Regions from separate parts of the Homo sapiens genome. Here region 2 is linked to region 1. The links come from fine-mapping of genetic effects on gene expression. Tissue or cell type: atrial appendage. Region 1 holds a variant in brackets; the other region holds the start of a gene. All regions are shown on one strand. Distances are from middle to middle.

Region 1 (8,107 bases):
TTTAAAGTAATCAATAATACCAACTTCAAAGTAAATTAAACTGAACTGTAAATCAATTATTTCTATGAACATACATATTGGTTATATGTGGATACACACACTATCACTGCTATAGTTATATATGATACACATATTATCATTTGATATAAGGATCCTCATCTTCCCAACTCAGAGATATCAAGATTTCATTTGTAGAATATCACACTGTAGTATTTGGGAGCTTAAAGAAAACCTGGGTCTTGGATCACCTACCACCAGGGATGGGTAAATGCAGGGGGGGAAGAAAAGCAGGAAAAAAAAAAAAAAGAAAACTTTGAGATTATGATAGCTATTCTCACCACCAGTGTACACAGTAATTACATGGGACACCAGTTAAAAATAGGTATTCTGGGCCAGGCGCGGTGGCTCACACCTGTAATCCCAGGATTTTGGGAGGCCGAGGCGGGTGGATCACGAGGTCAGGAGAGTGAGACCATCCTGGCTAACACGGTGAAACCCCGTCTCTACTAAAAATACAAAAAATTAGCCAGGCGTCGTGGCGGGAGGCGGAGCTTGCAGCGAGCCAAGATCGTGCCACTGCACTCCAGCCTGGGTGACAAAGTGAGTGAGACTCCATCTCAAAAAATAAAAAAATACAAATAAAAGATACTCTGACTCAATAGACAGGGGTGGAGTAAAGGAATTTATACTTTGAATGAAAGCCCTAGGTGATCCAAAGAGAGCCAAAGAAGTGCTCAAAAACCACTGATCCAATTCCTTCATTTTACAAAACAAAATCTGGACAACAAGAGGCTGTAACATGTTCAATGTTTTACAGGAGTATGTAACTTAAGTCCATAAATTAAATTTTCAATGAATGGTTAAACTTTTTTTTCAGCTTCTCTTTTTTATTTTTTTTGCTCTAGAAGATAACTAATTGATGCAATGGTGACTGTGTTAGTAAAACCTATGAGACACTCATGTCAAGTTATTTGTGGGTAAACTGTCTTTTACTGAAGAAATTTAGCAGTATATGCCAGGCACTGTTTTAACCCTGCCCTGTGAAATTTACATTCTATGTAGAGAGACAAACAATAACCAAGAAATATAATTAAATTGTCAACTGTTAGAGGAAAAGAATGCAGCAGGACAAGGAGATCAGGAGTGCCATTCAGAAAGTGCAGGTTGCAGTTGGAGTAAGGCAATTGCAATTTTAAATAGTCAAAGTAGGCCTCAATGAAAAGGGGCCTTGAAGGAGGGTAGCTGCAGTGATAGCTGAAGAAAGAGCTTTCCAAGAACTGGTTAAGGCAAAGGCAATCAGTCAGGAATATGCCTGGCCCATTCAAGTAAGAACAAGGAGACCAGTGAGGATGGAAAAGAAAAAACAAGCAGGATAATACAGGTTGAGTATCCCTTATCTGAAATCGTTGGGACCAGAAATGTTTCAGACTTGAAATTGTTTCCGCTTTTTAAATATTTGTATATACATAATGAGACTGGGGATAGGACCAAAGGCTAAACATGAAATTCACTTATGTTTCATATACACCTATACATATAGCCTGAAGGTAATTTTATATAATATTCTTAAAATTTTGTGCATGAAACAAAATTTGTATACATTGAACCATTAGAAAGCAAAGGTGTCACTATCTCATGTCAGTAATGAAAAAGCTTTGAAGCATTCTGGTTTTCACATTTTTGAATTCGGAATGCTCCACCTGTTTCAGGAGATGAAGTCAGAGAGGTCAAACAAGGAAAGGAAGTGAGCACATCACATAGGAATTTATAGGCAATTATGACTTTGGCTTTTACTGAATGAAATGGAAAGCTATTACAGTGTTTTCAGCAGAGGAGTGACATGATCTGATATGTTTTAAAAAGCTCACTCTGAATCATTAGTCATTAGAGAAATGCAAATCATAACCAGGATGATGCCACTTCACAACCACAAGGATGACTATTATCAGTAAGACAGGACAATAACAAAATATTGGCAAGGATTAGAGAAATTAGAAGCCTCAGATATTGCTGGTGAGAATATAAATGGTATGGCCACTTTGGAAAACAGTCTGGCAGTTCCTCAAGAGGCTAAACATAGTGTTACCATATGACCAGCAATTCCACTCCCAGGTGTAGACCCAGGAGAAATTAAAACAAACGTCCACACAAAAACCTGTACACAAATGTTCGCAGAAGCATTATTTCCAATAACCGAAAAGCAAAAACAACCTAAGTGTCTAACAACTGATAAATGGACAAATAAAACATGGTATTTCCATATGACAGATTATTTGGCAATAAAAGTAATGAAGTACTTATACATGCTACAACATGGATAAACCATGAAAACATTATGCCAAGTGAAAGAAATCATTTACAAAAGGCCACATATTGTACAAAACCACTTATATGAAATGTCCAGAATAGAAAATAGATTAGGCTGGCCATAGTGGCTCACGCTTGCAATACCAGCACTTTGGGGAGGCCGAGGTGGACAGATCACTTGAGGCCAGGAGTTCAAGACCTGCCTGGCCAACAGAGTGAAACCCAGTCTCCACTAAAAATACAAAAAACTAGATAGGTGTGGTGGTGCATGCCTGCAATCCCAGCCACCCAAGAGGCTGAGGTACAAGAATCACTTGAACACAGGAGCTGGAGGTTGCAGTGAGCAGAGATCATGCCACTGCACTCCAGCCTGGGCAACAGAGCAAGACTCCGTTTCAAAAGAAAACAAAAAAAGAAAAAGAAAGTAATAGATTAGTGGCTGCCAGTGTCCGGCAGCTGTGAGGAGGAATGGGGAAGGACTGCAAGTGGGTACAGGGTTTTGGTTTCATGGGAGAAAAAAAAGGTTCTAAATTTAGAGTGTGGTAATGGTTGGTTGCACAACTCTGTAAATGTATGAAAATACATTGAATTGTACAATTTAAGTGGGTGATGGCGTATAAAAAACGTCTTGATAAAACGAAAAAAAAAAGGATCACTCTAGTTGGAAAAAGAGAACAACTCTTTCAAGAAGTTTTGCTGAAAGAGAGTAAAACAATGAAGTATAGTCTATGGGGGAAGTTTGGGTCAAGAGATGATTTTAAGATAGAATAGGCTGGGCATGGTGGCTCACACCTGTAATCCCAGCACTTTGGGAGGCCGAGGCAGGCGGATCACGAGGTCAAGAGATTGAGACCGTCCTGGCCAACCTGGTGAAACCCCGTCTCTACCAAAATACAAAAAATTAGCCGGGCGTGGTGGTACATGCCTGTAGTCCCAGCTACTCAGGAGGCTGAGGCAGGGGAATCACTTGAACCCAGGAGGTAAGAGATTGCAGTGAGCCGAGATCGCGCTACTTCACTCCAGCCTGGCGACAGAGCAAGACTCCGTCTCAAAAAAAAAAAAAAAAGATAGAATAACAAAATTTTTACATGATGATGGGAAACATCCATAAAGAGGGGGGAAAAGGAAGAATTATTGGAATGAACATTTTAGTCCCCTTTAAAATAAGAGGTAAAAAGAAGTGTGCAAAAAAGGTCCCAATACAAACTCTCCACTCAAAAGTAGTTTTAGTAGCTTTTAGCAAAATCACTGAGATTCTGTAAAAGCTACTGTAGGTGAAGCTGTAGGCATAAACTTCTGGGAATCTATCATTTCTTCCAGCAAACTCAAATTTTATTTACCTCAGGTGCAGCCTGCCTTTTGTAGCTATCTGAATCTTCCAAGGTCTGAAAATAACTGTACATGTATTCTGCAGCTTGCTGCCATTGGTGCTTCAGCAGAGCTTCTTGGATAAAACTTAAACAAGCACTTGTTGTCTGAGCAAAATCCTTCCTCCTTTTCCCTCCAATGGCTATAAAAACGAAAAAGAAGAGAGTTTTTATCCAAGTGGCTCCAGTTCAACTATTCAAAAAACTTACTTCTGATAAGAAGTTTTAACAAGTAAACAGTAGGCATTACTTGACCCAGCCCATTCCCAGTACCAAAGCCAGCTTCACTTGAAACAAACCCTTCTACATTATATTAATTATTTTTAGCAGATAAAAACATTTCTAATTTGATGTTTTGGGGCTACTAGAGTCACCAGATCCTTTAAATCTGATTCAATCATCCTTTCATCCTTGTACCAAATAAT[T/C]TGCGGAGAATCTCTCAAACAGGCCCCCAAAAGCACAGTCCCAGGTATTTAGAATGGGTAAAATGTCAGGGTCATTCTAGGCAAACATGGTCTTTATTACCTACCCATGTTCTGCAAACCCCAAGTGGGCTTTTATTTTTTAAGGACCAAATTCCTAGTAACTCAATGATATTATATACAAATGAGATTAAAACAGTTGCAAAAATTAGCATTTATATCTCTAAAGTATTGGCAATCCCAATGTTAAGAACATTTGGGCTTAGATACAGTGCTATTATATGAATGACTAGTTACATTGCTACATCTTCTTATCTTCCCACGTAACTATGAGACCCCTCTAGTCCAGCTGGGTAATTGTACCCCAGTAAGTACACAAAGACCAACAGGTACTTTACAAAGATACTTTTAAAACAATTAACTTGCAGATATTTGATTTCCTTACATACTCTTTCCACAAGTTAATCTCCTAGACAGCTGTGCCTACATAGTCAAAGCTTCACAATCAAAATCATTACACACTATCTGAAGGTGAAAACACAGGTGTTGAAAAAGTAAATAACTCTAACATCTCCTTTTGCAAGTTAGGCAATTCCCAATTCTTTGCTCATCAAAACTGCAGAACAACGTAATTTTTTACAATAAATCATTATGCAATTTTTCATCAATAATTTAGAAAAAATTCACAGACCTGATACACGGCTATAATTAAACTCCATTCACTGCCATCTACTTACTTATGTGACTAAGGTTTCTCAGAATTTATGTCAATTAAAAAAAATAGCAGAATCAATGCTAAATGTTTTCTCATTCTAGAAATACATAAAAGTCACCCACAAATACATAAAAAATTGGGGAAAAGTTTTAGATAACTTTATTAAAAAAAAAAAAAAAAGAGTCTTGCTCTGTCACCCAGGCTGGACCGCACTAGCACAATCACAGCTCACCATAGCCTAGACCTCCTGGGTTCAAGTGATCCTTCCTTTTGGCCTCCCAAAGTGCTGGGATTATGAGCATGAGCCACCACACCTGGCCAACAACACGTTTAATACACGTTATATTGATCAGCTGTGTACAACTATTAATGATAGCAATGTCTCAACCTAGAAAAAGTTTTAATTCTTAAAACTTACAGGATATAAACAAAAAAAGTATAAATATTGATACATACTTTTATTGCAAGAAGTACAACAAAGAGGAACATAAAATGTCCATCTATTAAAAGCTTGTTCATAATTTTTTTTAAAATGAATAACGCAAGGTATTAAAACCCTATGCCATTCCTGTGCTATTTGGACTCCATCACATATAAAGTAATATATAGTCATTTAAAAATACCAACATGCTGGAAATTTTATCTCTTGCAAATATTAAACATACAATAAAATTTTTTCAGATGATTCCTTAAAACTATGCAAGGTAGTACTCAATTTTTCAGAAAAAACTAGGGGATACAAAAGTGAAAAGTTTGAAGACTACTGTGCTAGACTAGTGTTCTCAGACTTTTGAATGTACATACAAATCACCTGGGGACCTGCCCTTGCTACTCAATGTGGTCCTGGCATGCAGCAGAAGTATCACCTGGAATCTCATTACAACTACAGAGTACTATGCCCAGCTCTCTCAATCAGAAGCTGCATTTTATAAGATCTACACCAAAGCTGCTCGGCATCAGTGGCAATACCTGCCAGCTAGCCTAGGAAACTGACAAAACACCTCGTCCTTAAAACATCCCTTATTTACCTAAAGGAGAGAACTGTTCTCAGGCTAAGCTCCCTTCTATCGCTCAAGCTTTCACAACTGAGATTATAAATTGACTTTAGATAACTATACCTAAATGTTTGGAAAATACTTTTGTCTTCCAACCTAGCCTAGCTACCTCAGGAAAAGTTCTCCTCTCATTTCATTCTTTAATGAGCAAAAGATAGTCTTACTTGATCCTGATGACTTTAAGAAAAAAAAATTGTCAAGGAAAACACATTTTTACATGGAATAGAGATGTACAATAAAGAACTAGTGTCATCAACCTAACTTCTAATATGCTACTCAAAGAATCTGGAAACTTATCAATCTGTCAACAAGTATTTTTTGGGCACCACTGTGTCCCAAGCACTATCGCAGGTACTCATCATACAGCTTCAATCCAGACTGGCCCTGTCTTCAAAGTTTTTATTCTAAGGGGGTTGCTGGGCATGCCCTTCAAAAAGCCAAAAGATATCTACCAGCATAAAAAATAAATAGAACAATTGTTAGGCAATTTTGTTTTCCTATTATGGTTAATTACCAGCACAATGTCAATATTAATTGCAAGTATTTTCTCATTGCAGACCAAAAGTATTTTCGGTTTAACAGGCTATCCATGACATATAAAATATTCCTAAGCATGTAAATTTTGGTCTTTGGTCTTAAACCTATCTGCTTGCAGACTGACTCAGACTTTCTATAGAACACTGGTAACAGAAACATACCCAAGTATGACTTAACTATAGGAAATTTAAATTACTAGTTTGTTCCCTACCAGGGATGCGGTAGCACTACCTCTGAAGTATCATTCATTCAAATCTGCCTTAAGCCATGTGCATTAATCTAGCAAAAATAAAATGAGGAGAGGAAAGGCACTATTATTTTTCAACACTCATTATGCATGAGATACTATGCTAGGTACTTTACATATATTGTCTCATTTTTAAAAATGCATCTCAGTCGTTAAAAGTGTAAGCTTTGAGATCAGACAAACCTGGATTTGACTCCTGATACCACTTAAGAGTTTAATGTCTTTGAGATTCAGTTTCATCCTACCTAAACTGCCTAGCATAAAAATTTATTGAGAATTTACTGAGATCATTAAATGGGATGATACTTAGATCAAAAGAAAAAAATGGAAGCGAAATTTTAGGAGCCAAGGAATCTCTGTCAAGGGGAGAAAAGGCTGGGCAAAAAAACACATATTTAAGGGCAGTAAGTAAAATGCTGGTTCAAATGTAATCCCAGGACTATACCACTCAATATGCCAGCATACAGATAATAGCTTCTTTTATTTATACTTATATTAAATATATTCTTATAGGGAATTTATCCCATAGAAAAACATACTTGCATTTATATTAGATAAAAATGGGGGAAATTTTATCCCATAGAAAATCATGCTTGCATTTACATTAGATAAAAATGGGGGAAAATGCTCTTTTATCTAGGCCGGGTGCAGTGGCTCATGCCTGTAATCCCACCACTTTGGGAGGCTGAGGTGGGCAGGTCACTTGAGGTCAAGAGTTCAAGAACAGCCTGCCCAACATGGTGAAACCCTGTCTCTATTAAAAATACAAAAACTAGCCAGGCGTGGTGGCTGGTACCTGTAATCTCAGTTACTCGGGAGGCTGAGTAGAATCACTTGAACCTGGGAGACAGAGGTTGCAGTGAGCCAAGATCTAGCCACTGCACTCCAGCGTGGGCAACAGAGCAAGACTCTGTCTCAAAAAAAAAAAAAATCTATTACACGATCAATTCTATTCGAAATAATTTCAATGCAATTCAACAGCAACTTCTTGAACACTTCCTAGGCATGTTTTCCTCAATGGCAGAGACCATATCTTCACCTATGACTCCCCAATATTTAATCAATGCCAGAGATAAAAGTGCTCAGTAAGTATTACTGGAAAAAATGTGTATCTAGCATAATACAGACTATCTATTATTAATCCAAGGGCAAAGAATTCTAAAAGAAAAAAGATTTCTTTTGGCTTTTAGCCAAAAAACCCTCCACATATTCCTCTTGAAAATTAAACCAGTCTGGTTATTCATTTTGTATCCCTATTGAATCTTACCACCTCCTTAAAGTTAAAATGGCTCAATGTTATTATTTTACTTACCCACAGTTTCTACGTATGTTTGAAGCCAAGGAAAATGCATTCCTGCACCACTGAGCACAGATGTTTCCACTTCTTCATCATCTGTCACAGGCCCTTTTAATTCTTCACTGAAATCACTCATACCTATTACAAGATGAGATATCAG
Region 2 (8,102 bases), 37 kb before region 1:
AGAGAGAAAGGAGAAGAAGGAAAAACAAAGGCAGAGTGGTAGGGTGGAAAGAGCATGAACTTGGGGTCAGTTAAAACTGAGTCCTCACCTGGCCATGCATCCATAGCTTGATGGCCTTGTGCCACAGCTTCCAGTGAGAATAAGAAATCCCACATTCAAAGTAAAGGCCCTGGGATCTAATGGCACATAATAATCAGAGGCTACTATTATGTTTCATATGTTGATATTATCTATAATCCTTTCTCAGACCCCTATGGCTGCTGGTCCTTACTTACCCTTTGTAAAGACAGGAAAGTATGTCTTTATTTAGGGTAACTGTAAGGTGATGGCTACATCCCATTAAACAGCCTTAACTCAAGAGGCTAACTTGGGCCGTTCTCAATCCACAGTGACTCCTTTCTCAACAGTTCGAGTAGTGCTCTAAAACCAGTGAAGTTCCCCTCTATTATCTCGCAGACCTGGTTGGCATTATTTCGGAACACAGTACAGCTGTAGGCTCTCATGAGTACCTCTCACCTCTCTGATTTCAGGTCAGCTTTGTTAGGATCAGCCCGAGAAACCTTCATCTCACTAATTCGGATCTTTTCTACCTTCTTCTTGTCCAGGCACGAATAATAAATATAGAACTTGCGATTGTGGCGGAATTTGGGGTGAAAAGCCAACCCCAAGAAGCCTCTCTCATCCCCGATCCATGGGGTGGTCAACACGATGTTCTTGAGGTCCAGGAAGGGTTGCTCCAGGCGACTCCCATCAGGGAGGTAGACCCACACCACTCCTACCTGCTCGGCAACAAAGAAGCGATGGGTGCCGTCCCCAGCATGGACCATGGAGACGGGGTTCCTCAGCCCGTTGGCCACCTCGCTCAGGCAGAGCTGCAGGCAGCCCTGAGGATCTTGGGCCACCATGCCCAGGTGGCGGTTGAGATAGTCGTTCCTCAGGACATTAGGGAAGCAATAGTCCTTGTCAGGAAGGTCCAGGAGGTGGCAGAAGCGGGTACCGTCCCTTCCATGAGACTCCTGGAGGCCGCGGTCATTGGTCAGCAGGGAAATGGCTGAGTGACAGTTAGAATGGAAGGCAGAGCAGTAATCAGAGCAGAGGCCCGGGAGATTCCGGAGAGGCGTCTGGGTGTTTTCGGCGTCGTAGAGGTGGGCTGCGTAGGGCGAGCACTCCTAAAAAAGAACGCGGAGCTCAGGCTCAGCATCAGACCTGCCACACCGGCACTTGTCTCAAGTTTTGAGCAAGCAGAAAGAAAAAATGGTGCTAGGCGGAAAAAATCAGGATTTTGGAGTTTTTGTTACCAACTGCTGCTAAAACTCTTCTCTGTGATTTTCTACCTAGTTAATGCTCCTAGAAGGCAGAAAACAGGGAAAATCTCTCATATTCACTGTACTATCTCTAACATTTCAGCTTAGTTTTTGACATTTAAAGTTTTATTAAATGATGCATGAATATTTTTTCAAAAAGATATTACTAAATTTCTAGATCTCTTTCTTATTTTTTAATTTTCATTTTATTTTATTTTTCATAGAAACGGCCTCACCATGTTGCCCAGGCTGATTCCTAACTCCTAGGCTCAAGTGATTCTCCTGCCTCTTCGATCTCCCAAAGTGCTGGGATTACAGGCATGAGCCACCATGTCGGCCCAGCCTCATTTTCTTATGGATGCTATATCTACCAAGATGTTATTTCTTTATACAAATCTGAAACAATTTGGCAAAAATTTTACATTTGTTCAAATCTGGTTGTTGGAGATACAGTGTTAATTATTTTTCTGTGCTTTTCCATATTTTTGGAATATTTTACAATGAAAAATAAAGTTATCAGAATTGACATTGGATGTATCACTCTCAGAGATTAGGTGTTTAGCAATTTCTTTAATTATTGATTTTAAAAATTTCAGTGTTTAATATATGCAAAGTACCATGCTGGAACCTATACACATTTGAATTGTGGCTATAGGGCAATATGCCTGCTCCTTACACAAACATATAAGGACTATTTGCTCAAAGGAGTATCTGCTACTTGGACCTCCCTAGACTATAACATTTTTTAGGAGGAAAATAGAATATTGTGAGCAGACGAGCGACTCCCAGTAGTGATGAAAGACAGAGGCAACTGAGATTAGGAAGGTAAGAAAGCCCAATTCAAAGGGTGTCGTTTGGAGCCGTGCATTAGAGCAGAGTTCACCCATTGGCCCAGAAGCCCCCTTCTGATCACTAAGGACTCTCCTGAGCCAGCCAGCCTGTGCAGAACCATCTCATTCACCTCTGTGCTGCCATCGCTTCACAAAAGGACCAGCAGCATTTTTCATGTATATGTGAGTTCCCTGTTCTCTCTTATTTCCTCTGATTGTACGCTGCAGAGTCAGCTTTCGGTCATTGGGCAGAGTGGAAGAAGGAGCTCAGAGATTCGCAGGCTCCCCTCGGGGTGTCTGTTTCCATTTAAGACACTTATCACAGCAGCTATCAAGAAGCAACATGACCCACTCTTAAGTGTCCCCTTGCTCATTCTGTCCACTCTCGGAGACTGGGAAAAAGGGAGAAGGGAGGCTGAATTAAGGATCCAATACTAGAGAATAGAAGGGGGCTGTGGAAAGAGAACCATCACTATGGCACACTCTCATGCAGCCATTTAGAGTTTGCAAATTTGCTTCTACTCAATTAGCTCAGTAAATGAACAGATACTTCCCTACTTCAAAGGGAAGAAAATCAAAGCCCATAAGGTCTCTAGCCAGGCGCAGTAGCTCACGCCTGTAATCCCAGCACTTTGAGAGGATGAGGGGGGCAGATCACCTAAGGTCAGGAGTTCAAGACCAGCCTGGCCAACATGGTGAAACCCTGTCACTACTAAAAATAAAAAAATTAAAAAAATAAAAAAACCCAGGCATGGTGTCATGTGCCTGTAGTCCCAGGTACTCAGGAGGCTGAGACAGGAGAATCGCTTGAAGCCGGGAGGCAGAGGTTGTAGTCAGCCAAGACCGTGCCACTGCACTCCATCCTGAGTGACAGAGTAAGACTCTGTCTCAAAAAATAAATAAATAAATAAATAAATAAAAGTCCTATGTGACTCTCCTGTTGAGTCTGTCTTACGTGCCAGGCACCGTTCTCTACATTGATTGGGATGCAGCAGTGAGCGAAATGCACAAAGTCTCTCTTCCAATGGAGCATATAGTTTGGGGAGCTCAGAAAACCGTTAAGTAAACAAGCCAGTGCTGCTGTAACTATACTTTAGCACGGTGTGATCAAAAGGCACAAAACTTGGAGCCTGAGCATCTGGCTCTGTGCCCCAGGATTGTTTTACCTTGGGTAAGTCATCTAAACTCTTGAGCCCTCATCAGTAAAATGAGGATCATAACAACTGCCTGCAGAATCATTGCTGGGTACACACTACATACGTTGGGGAAGAAAGAGGACCTTATAAATGTGAATAAATAAACACGTGTAGGACTGTTTGGCTGAAATTGTTCTTATTCCTCAAATCCCTAAAACAACAGAGCTGCTGACTTTGACTTTCTGAAACCTCATGCAAGAGGGAAGGGTCAGGGGTATAAATTTTTACCAGGGATGATCTCAGAAATAAACATTCTCAGTGCTGCTTGTAAAAGCTCAGCTTCTACCCTAATGGGAATCCTAGAGTTAATTCTCCAGGAAACAGCTGTGGAGTGGTGTCTAAGAGGACAGCCCCAGGCGGTGCCACCCAGGTGGCTGACTTTCTGGGCCAGGCTCAGCTGTAATTCTCTCCTGGACTCTGGGAAGCTCGGTTAACCACTTCACGCCCTATGTGGGAGTTACAGTGGTCTGCAGGCTCAGGAACAGTGGCGCCAGGAGTCATGAACAGATGCCTGTGGATAGCCAAGTCATTGTGCTGACAAGCCCAGGGGGTCTCAGTTCAAAAGGCTGCCTGGACTTCTTGCCTCTCCTCCCCAACATCATTAGAGGGGTCCTCCCCAGGCAGCCTCTTTTATCAGCTTTCCAAATGCTGACCTCTCCCCATTAACCCCCAAACACCCTCTTCCTACAAAGTCTGTGTGTGCAGCCTACACCCGTCTTGTTTTCAGGCTGAGCTCAATCAAAACGATGCCTCCCAGGCATGTGGATTTTGGCTGTTGGGCAACCAGGAGAAGCAGAAACTCTGTGAGTCACTGCTACTCAGCAGCTTGCATCTCTCTCTTCCAGCTCTGGAGTGCTGGGCAGACAGAACTCTGGAGAGAGTCTCCAACCCCTGCCACCGCCAGGGTGACGCCAGAGATGCCCTGGCACAAATCACCCAGATGAAAAGGACTGGACCCCAGCAGATGCCACCACTCCCTCCCTTAACGCGCTCGGTAAATTCCACGGGTTTAAGTGCCTAGCTCTCTGAGCACCGCAGAGGATGCAAATAATTATTTGCCATGCACCACAGAGGGAGTGTGGCAAATAATGGCTGCTCTGAGAGCTCCAGGAAGAGTGTCCCTCTCATTCTCCTGGAGCCTGGAGAAGAATCAGGGCCAGCAGAATCCCAGAGGGAGAGCTTTGGGGAACCCATGGAGACCAAATTCAGCACACACTCATGTCAGTGTGCGTGTCCAAAGCCGGCAGCTCCAAGATGAGGCACCCGGCACATGAACTTCTAAAGGGCTGGGCTCCCAAAGCACCCTCCGCTCAGGACCCACACCATGCAGCCCAGCACCCAAACCCCTGGGGCTGGAAGGCACTTTTCACTACCTGGCAAAGGATGTCTTTAATGTAATCTCCACACAGCTCATGTCTCTTCAGATCAAAATATTCCATGATGTCCCAGTACCGGGCAGCGATGCGGCGGTCCTTGTGCTGATCACAGCAGCCGAAGGACTCATAGTCAGAGCAAAACTCAAGGTGCAGAGGGGGCTGGAAAGGGGGCCCGTAATCCAGGCACTGGGGGTGTCCCTGCAGCAAGCCCACCTGGCCCAACAAGAATATGAGGCAGAGGCAGAGAATGCCAGAAGAGAGCCAGGGGGCCCGGCAATGCAGACCACCACACAGATTAGGAGTGGACGTTCTCAGCATTTTGGCCTTGGGAACACTCGGGCTGCTGTGTTTGCTCAGGTTGGCTTCCCTGCTCTGCCCAAGGTCCTCCCTCTCTTCCTCCCCCTACTCCACCCTGTTTTCTCCTCCTTCCTCCTCTTCCCCGCCCCTCCCTGCTGAGGTAGTTTCTGAGCAGTGTCCCTTCTGTGGGCTCCCTTTGAAAGCAGTGGGAGGTGTCCCTTCCCCCCTCCCCCAACCCATCTAAACATGAAGCCCCACTCTAGTGCTGCTAGTGTTATGGGGGCACACCTTTGCTTAGCCAAAAGTGTAGTGGTGTCAATGGCAGAGGTGCTCGATTCCTTAAAACTGCAAAGAATTCCTGCTGTCTGTGGGGATGCCCGGAAATTCACACTTTTTTATGTTTCTTCACAGGCTGAGAGGCCCAGAGTCACCATGAGAGCACCATATATTACATCATCCCAGACTTCACACTCTGTAGAAGGAAAGCTTCAAGCGTTTCTACAGTGCTGAAGGGCCCCAAGGCGGTGGGAGATATGGAGGGGCCATGGCAGGAGGCAGGGTGTGCTGTATAGCTCCTGGGATCTGGCAAGGTGTATATTTGGAAGGGTAGGAAGAGAGGGCATTTCATGAATCTTGCATCCACAGTAAGGACCAAGGAGAGGAAGGAGGACACAGTGAAGGAAAAGAAGGGGAATCTTAGTCCATGCTGCTGTAACAAAACACCACAGACTGTAATTATAAATAATAGAAATGTATTGGTCACAGTTCTGGAGGCTGGGAAGTCCAAGATCAAGATGGCAGTAGGGGCTGGGCATGGTGGTTCATGCATGTAATCCCAGCACTGCGGGAGCCTGAGGCAGGAGGATTACTTGAGCCCAGGAGGTTGAGACCAAACTGGGCAATGCTGTGAGACCCCGTCTCTACAAATATAAAAAGAAAATTAACCAGCCATGGTGGTGCACACCTGTAGTTCCAGCTACTTGGGAAGCTGAGTCAGGAGGATTGCTTGAGCCCAGGAGTTTGAGGCTGCAGTCAGCTATGATCACGCCACTGCACTCCAGCCTGGGCAACAGAGCAAGACCATCTCTAAAAATAAAAAAAAATAAGAGATGCCAACAGGTTCAGTGTCCGACGAGGGCTCTGTTCCTCATTGATGGTGACTTGTTGCTCCCATGGTGGGACAGGATGGTTCAAATCCACTCCTTCAAGACCTTTTATAAAGACCCTAATCCTATCCATGAGGCCTCTGCCTTCATGACCTAATCACCTCCCAAAGGCTCCACTTCTTAATACTATCACATTGGCGATTACATTCCAATCTATGAATCTGAGGTAGGGAGGGACACATTCAGACCATAGAAGAGGGAGGTGGTCCAGTGAAAACAAGGAATCAACAAGGACTGTTTGGGACAATTTCCTCAGGAAGCACAGGACAACTGGGTGCCTTCCTTTGCCAAATCTATACCTGCTGTAGGGACACTCCTCCTCACTTAGTATATGTTCCCACATTAGTATTTTAAAAATGTGTTTTGTGGCCGGGCACAGTGGCTCATGCCTGAAATCCCAGCACTTTGGGAGGCCGAGGCGGGTGAATCACCTGAGGTCCGGAGTTCAAGACCAGCCTGGCCAACATGGTGAAATTCCATCTTTCCTAAAAATACAAGAATTAGCGGCCAGGTGTGGTAGCTCACACCTGTAATCCCAGCACTTTGGGAGGCCAAGGCGGGCGGATCACAAGGTCAGGAGTTCAAGACCAGCCTGGCCAGCATGGCGAAACCCCGTTTCTACTAAAAATACAAAAAATTAGCTGGGCATGGTGGCGCATGCCTGTAGTCCCAGCTACTCAGGAGGCTGAGGCAGGATAATTGCTTGAACCCAGCAGGCGAAGGTTGCAGTGAGCCGAGATCATGCCACTGCATTCCAGCCTGGGTGACAGAGCAAGACTCCATCTCAAAAAAAAAAAAAATTAGCTGGGTGTGGTGGCGGGCGCCTGTAATCCCAGCTACTTGGGAGGCTGAGGCAGGAGAATCGCTTGAACCCAGAAGGCAGAGGTTGCAGTGAGCTGAGACTGTGCCATTGCACTCCAGCCTGGGCAACAAGAGTGAAACTCCATCTCAAAAAGTAATAATAATAAAATAAATATAAAATAAAATAAAAACGTGTTTTCCTTTGTCCACATCCCTTGCACATAACAGGCTTTGATAAATATTTCTTGAATGAATAAATGCAGAACAGGAGTCCCAAACTCACACAGCCCCAAACCCAAACAAGCATGAGCCAAGGTGTAGGCCAATGGGGACATTTGGCACTTGAGCTAACTCTCCTTTCAGCATTTTCCATGGTTCTGGTCCACCTTGAATTTCCTTACTGGCAAAAGCTTCTGTTTGAAACGCAGATGAAGTCCAAGTTTCTTCTTGTTCCAGATGTGCTGCTTCAGAGGGTGCCCTACCTGGCTGCCCAACTCATCGCCAGAAACAGTATTTGCCAGGGTATCATCAAGAAGGGACAGTGAACCTCAGTCTAGCCAAGTCTATACTCACAATGTTCTGGATTATGAAAGCCCCAAATAGCATTTAAAATACAAACAAAATTGGCCAGGTGTGGTTAATGCCTATAATCCCAGGACTTTGGGAGGCCAAGGCAGGAGGATCATTTGAGCCCAAAAGTTTAAGACCAGACTGGGCAACATAGTGAGACCCTGTTGCTATAAAAATTTTTTAAATTAGCTGGGTGTGGTGGCGTGTATCTGTAGTCCTAGTTACTTGGGAGGCTAAGGTGGGAGAATTGCTTGAGCATAGGAGTTCGAGGCTGTGGTGATCTGTGATCACACCGCTGCACTCCAGCCTGGGTGACACAGGAAGATCCTGTAGATAGGTAGGTAGGCAGAAAGATAGATGCATAGATAGATAGATAGATAGATAGATAGATAGATAGATAGATAGGAGGGAGTAGTCAGAATGATCATCAGAATAGTCCTGCTTTCCTATTTGTACTGTTCAGTACTACACCTAGTTGGCCGGGTGCAGTGGCTCATGCCTGTAATCCCAACACTTTGGGAGGCTGAGGCGGGTGGATCACTTGAGGCCAGGAGTTTGAGAC

Alleles and levels. Alleles are on the strand shown, and positions count from the first base shown. SD is a standard deviation of normalised expression in the study named.
With allele T in place of C in region 1, the expression in atrial appendage of the gene that starts at base 5,084 in region 2 is lower (small effect, 0.30 SD a copy in GTEx).

Evidence for each region. PIP is the estimated chance that this variant, and not a neighbour inherited with it, causes the effect.
Region 2: it holds the start of HHIPL2, and the variant in region 1 is fine-mapped to the expression of HHIPL2 in atrial appendage (GTEx, PIP 0.95).

The regions. Positions count from the first base shown.
Region 1 is chr1:222,580,481-222,588,587 of GRCh38, forward strand. TAF1A (TATA-box binding protein associated factor, RNA polymerase I subunit A) reads right to left here. Exons shown (of 11, transcript NM_005681.4): 2 at 7,963-8,085; 3 at 3,648-3,817. The coding sequence starts at 8,083. Among named protein-coding and RNA genes, the nearest start is that of TAF1A-AS1, 5.4 kb to the right of the region's middle. RefSeq lists an enhancer at 1,866-2,005. The variant T/C (reference allele first, on the strand shown) is at 4,100.
Region 2 is chr1:222,543,021-222,551,122 of GRCh38, forward strand. HHIPL2 (HHIP like 2) reads right to left here and starts at 5,084. Exons shown (of 9, transcript NM_024746.4): 1 at 4,704-5,084; 2 at 517-1,169. The coding sequence starts at 5,024.